2 separate regions of the Homo sapiens genome follow, and region 1 is linked to region 2. Evidence: fine-mapped expression QTL. A gene starts in region 2. The other region holds a variant in brackets. All regions are shown on one strand. Distances are from middle to middle.

What was found. PIP is the estimated chance that this variant, and not a neighbour inherited with it, causes the effect.
Region 1: its variant is fine-mapped to the expression of LPAR1 in whole blood (TOPMed, PIP 0.99).

Annotation. Positions count from the first base shown.
Region 1 is chr9:111,148,614-111,151,531 of GRCh38, forward strand. No RefSeq gene overlaps it. Among named protein-coding and RNA genes, the nearest start is that of LPAR1, 110 kb to the left of the region's middle. The variant T/G (reference allele first, on the strand shown) is at 1,667.
Region 2 is chr9:111,036,958-111,039,875 of GRCh38, forward strand. LPAR1 (lysophosphatidic acid receptor 1) reads right to left here and starts at 1,513. Exons shown (of 6, transcript NM_001351411.2): 1 at 1,210-1,513. LOC124902248 (a long non-coding RNA gene) reads left to right here. Exons shown (of 2, transcript XR_007061732.1): 1 at 1-832; 2 at 2,498-2,918. RefSeq lists a silencer at 943-1,282.

The DNA.
Region 1 (2,918 bases), 110 kb after region 2:
GCCTTCCTTGCCCATTAGACTGTATACGATGGAGAAAGATCATTTCCAAATGGAAATTCAGATGCTATTACCAAAAGAAACTGGAATGGATGCTAAACGGCCTAAAATCAAAGCAAAAAATTAAACAAACAAACACTACAAGCATACTCACATTTTTCTGCACACTTAACAAGACACTAAATACCATTTACTTGCTAAATACCACTCAGTTTTTCACTTCCTTCTGCCTCTCTTGTTTTGTAATTCCAACTCTGTCTTGTGACCATCTTAATATTTCAACCAAAATTTCCTGGGTTCTATCTGCTCCCCTTCTCATCCCCAGAATCTAGTATTTCACAAGGAAGCTTAACCTCTCCATATCCACTACCAGCACTGACTTAGAATTTAATACTTCCCTAGTTCACATCCCGGATCCCACACTGGTACATCTCAACCTACATCACTTGGGGTATTTGGATTTATTTTCCAATTGCAAAGTTCTCTGGATATTAGTGAAGATGAGACCTAGGCCCATCTGGTTGTCCAACACATCACAGCAGAACCTGAGCAAGCTCAGGAACCAGCCTGACTCCCCCTAGTGCCACTCTAGAACAGGAGTTTTTAACAAGTGCTCTAGAATGACTGCTTCATAGGAGAGCTGTTACCTAGACGCAGGAGAGAAATGAACATATGTAAAGCAAGGTAAGTCATTTTAAGCAACTGGATTTGAAAGAACTAACTAGTTTATCCAGAATTTTTGAGTAGGGAACAGAGGCTTGGCTCTAGAGCTGCACATTTGGGCCATGTTTATGTGAGTCAGGAGAAAGCCTGGCTCCAAGGCTGACACACTAGCACAGTTGTTGCTGTCACCTTTTGGGGTAATTTGGAGCACACCCAGCAAGAATTGGCCCTGCGGCATGGGAGGCCAGAGGCCAGCTAGAGTTGTTCTTTCCATGAGTACCACACCCCTGGATTTTCAGGGTGTCCTGACACCCCTGGCTCCACTGTGAAAGGGCACACCCATCAGCAGATAGCAACCTACGGGGATCCCATCACCACTTGATTTTCCAAGTTCTGACTTCATTTTCTCCAGGGCATTTTCTCCTCATTTTCCTGGTTGCAGGGGACCGTAGCTGCTTTATTTGGTTATGTTTGGCCCTCAATATGGAATAATAATGGGGTTAAGAGTCTACAGCTGCTTGTTCATATTTAGAAAATGTTTCTTCTAGTTCTGGCTTCATAAATTATTAATTGTCTGAGTTTGGGAAAAATCATTCAAACATCTCTAAATTGTAGTTTCTTCATTCGTAAAAAAAAAAAAAATAACTATCGTATCTACTTCAGATTGCTATGAGAAATGAATGTCATAAATTTTGGCCATTCAACTACAGGCATCTAATGTGTTCCTGATAAAATCACAGAAGTTCTATACATAAAAATATATTTAACTTTTTAAAAATGTTAAGTCTGGTGTTTACCTTCAATCTCTTTAGGATGCCGTAAAAATTTATAAAAGATTAAATGTAATTATTATTAAAAGGATACGTAAGTCTACAGTTTTTAAATAAAGAAAAATTATAAAAATTAAAAATTACCTATAACCTCACCATTGTATGAATTTTGGAAAACTTATTAGCATCAGCAATACATGTTGTTTCGTAAACTATATTTTTGTTTCACAATATGT[T/G]GCAAATGTGGACATGTGAAAAACAGTTTGCGAAATGTGAAATATCTTACAAATGTTTCCAATTACTGTCACTTTTACTATCAGTTACTCTTACTATCAGCTCAGCAAAATTTATTAATTTTCTTAGGATAGTGATTAGTTGTAAGATTATATCTCCATTCTTAAAAAGCCATATGGTATTTAAAAGAAAACAAGCCAAAATATACAAAATGCTGAGAGCTAAACAGAGTTTAATGACTCTGAAAAGGACTCACAGATGTGAACTTATTAAAGTACTGTGCTCTAATGAATAGGAGTCTGGGCTTTGGAGTCATATATACTTGATTCGAATCCTAGCTCTGCTTCTCTAAGTCTCTGTTTTTCTGCTTATTAGCAAAACAAAATATAGTTCTTATCCTAAAATTTTTTTAACATTTAAAATACTTACACATAGGGAAAAATAATAAGTAGTACCTATCTTAAAATATTATTACATACAGTCAGTCACAGTAGCTCACACCTGTAATCCCAGCACTTTGGGAGGCCAAGATGAGAAGATCCTTTGAGTCTAGGAGTTCAAGACCAGCCTGGTCAACATGGCAAAACCCCATCTCTGCAAAAAATACAAAAGTTAGCTGGGTGTGGTGATGCATGCCTGTAGTTCCAGCTACTCAGGAGGCTGAAATGGGAGGTTCACTTGAGTCCAGAAGGTCAAGGCTCCAGTGAGCTGTGATCACACCACTATACTCCAGCCTGGGCAACAGAGTGAGACCTTGTCTCAAAATAAAAGAAAAAAAAATACATTATTAATATTAGATCATAAATATTTAAATAATAAAAAATAGGCCTTCAAAAATACTGAAGATGCTATGGTTTTCAAGGTTTTATATATATGATATATATTGATATATAAGTCAGTATATATGATATATATGTCAATATATGATATATGACATTGATATATGATATATGTGATATATATCTATATGTCAATATGTATTATATCATATTTTTATATAATCATATTATGCATTATATTAAATATTTACATATATTTATAATATATTTATAATTATATAAAAATCTATAAACATAAATTTTTACAAATATATAAATTTATATTTAAATATTTACATAATTTATATAATTATAAATATATATCCATGATATATATCACATATATATCATTATATATCATATGTCATATATTATATATATCATTATATATTACATCGATAATATATATGTATAATTATATTATATATTGATATAA
Region 2 (2,918 bases):
GTTCAAATAACCATACCTCTAAAATACACCCTTTTTCCTTGGGACCCACTCTTCTATCCGGCAAGGGAATAACTTCTTAAAAAACTTCGCATTTTCCAAGTGTACAGTCTCCCCTTAACCAGAACTGCAGACTCTGAATCACAGACCTCTGGCTTACCAATTATGCTTAGCTGAGCAAACACACTTATGCAAATACGTGAAAAACAAACTGTTAGAGCCTGAAGGAATAGAGGATTTCGCTGTGATCATCAATATGTGATCATCACATTTTCAATATTTATGTTTACCAATATCTATCTAACCCCATAGGAAACGACGCGTCCATAGTGAAACAAGCCAGCACCCACATTTATGAAAAAATCCACGGATTTCAACAAAAATGAAGAGAGGAGAGCAGAAGCGGAGAGCCACAACCTCAGGCCCCAGACAGCAGGCAGCAGCAAGTCCTGAATGCCTTCACTCTTAACATTGCAAAGACCAAATGGCAGCAAAGAAAAACAAGAATAAACTTTAAATCCATTCACCACAAAGGAGTCCTACGCAAGTCAAAGGAGCCGTCGATTTCAAAACCATCAACTTTCAAAGCCAGGTCCCTCCCTTGCCTTACAACCTCCTGTTACTTGTTAAGCACGTTTGTTAGGCGGCTGGACAGAAACTTAGTTAAAAGTCCTCAGCCCGGTGGTGGGGGACAACCGAGTCGTCAGTGGGAAGCGAGAGGTGCGGAGCCCCAGGGGCGCAGGGACCCCTCGGAGGTGCAAGTCCAGCGGGACGAGGTTTTGGGAGAATTTCGAGGGCCCCTCGCAAGCCCTCCCGCGCACCCACCCCGACCCAGGTAACCGGAGGCCACCTACGTGTCACTGGGCGGGCCCCGGGGCGCACTGACCTGGCGCGGGACAGGAGGGCCGGCGGCCCGGGCGGCTGCGGCAACTTCCCTCCAGGGGCTCGGTCCGCCGCTGGGTGCGGGAGGCCAGGGGAGCCTCGCCTCCTGCAGGCCGGCTCGCAAGAACGCACGGCCACCCACCCGCGCCGCGGCCCACAGCGCGCACCCACACTCTCACTGGCACTCGCACGCGCGCCCCCAACCACAAAGCCCGTCCGCGGCGGGACAGTGTGAGCCCAGCGCGCCGTGTGGCGGGCCGAGCAGTCGCCGCGGCCTCTGGCTTCGCGCCCAGGGGGCGCCGTCCCCACACGCCGCGCCGGCCCCCTTACCTGCGCTCGCTGCCGCCGCGCGTCCCTCTCCTGCCGCCCCCGGGCTGGCTTCAGGCCGCGCGCCCAGTCCCGGCGGCCCCCGCCCCACCGCCAGCCGAGCCCGGCCCTCCGCCCGCCCCTCGGCAGTCGCCCAGAGCGGGGCCGCCCCCTGCGCCCACCCCGCCGGGGTCCCGTGCTCGGCCGGGCGGCGGGGAGGGCTCCGCGGCTCCGGGCCCTGGCCGCCCCAGATCCGGCCCGCGCTCCGCAGCGGGGCTGGAGACGGAGTCGCCACTCAGGGAGCGTCAGCCGCCAGTCGGCCCCTACTGCCCGGCTTTGGCGCGCTGGCAGGAGGAGGGGGCGCAGAGGGAGGGCCAGAGGAGCAGCGCCGACGCCAGCCTCCTCTCTTCCTCCGCCTTCCTTCTTTTCTGCTTGTTCCACGTAGCACAAGTCAGCAACACCCGAACCCCCAGAGTCCGCCCTCCCCGCTCCCAAGCTGGACCCCTTACCTGGTGTGGCGCCCCCAGCGCCCCTGACCTCTGCGCCCCCTCCTCCATTCATTGGCTCGACAGCCCACGGTGGTGGCAGGGCCGGGGCTGGGGGGTGGCCTTAGCCTCCCATTCATTATCTCAGCAGCCTCCCCCGCCCCGCCCCCGAGTCGACACACCCGCAGCGGGAGACCCGTGGCCGCCAGCTCGGGTCCCACCCCCGCCCCTCCTGCGCTTACCCCAGCGCCGGACAGCTGGCAGGACTCCGGTGGACGCCCCGGCACGGGGCATTTTCACGTTGTCGCTCTCCTCTTCCCACTCGAAAAGCTCTGGAAAACATCGCGGGGCCCGCAAAACCCCGGAAATGTGGCCTCTCTTTCGTGGCTCACTTTCTAAACTTTCCAGAAGGCGCAAAGTTTCTCCCAGCGCCGCCCTGCACTGGAGGCTGCGAAGAACGCAGAAGCGGCTTTGCTGCTAGGAAGGTGCATACGTTTCTAGTTCTGATTTTTCACTTCACTGGATCTGTAAACGAAAGCAAGTGTGTCTGCTCCCCTAGTTCTCCATATCCACGATTATAAATTTCTCTTCCGCTTTCCCAGTGTAGCTTTGCAAGTGTAAACTATCAATTTTAGTGAGAGTAATTAAGGGCGGGGACTGCACACCTGGAGGTGTGGGTGGGAGCGGCGCGGGACTAAGGCCTAGGGAACATTCTCAGGAGAGTGGCAGCCACAGGGATTCGCCCAGGTCTTATAACACACCCACTCGATGGGGTCTCCCTAGCCACGCCACCTCACAACACCCATCTCCCACTTCTGGCTTCCCAGGATTTCCGGAGTGATCACAATTATCGGCCTCTCGCTCCACAGCTAAGGCCACCGCATATCAAAAATAGCAGCGTGTGAGTAAAAGTTTCATGAGCCCTCGCCTTGAAATGGCACAGAGGACACAGCACACCAGCAGTAAGGCATGGGGACTCGGCAGGACTGATCTGATTGAGAGAAACGCAGGACAGCGAGGCGGGGCTATGTTGGTGGTGGCCACCAGGTAACCGTGGGCTTTGCAGAAGAGAAAGGTCACTGCAAACCGTAGCTGGACGGAAACTTTTCAAGCCTCAAGTGAGTTATGCTGTGACGGGACCATGACCATCTCCCACCGGTGACTGCTTAGAACCTTGACCAAGCTCGTGTGGTTTTCACAGGATGCTCAGGGCTGAGTCCTGGCTGTAAATAATTTACTATCTAAAGC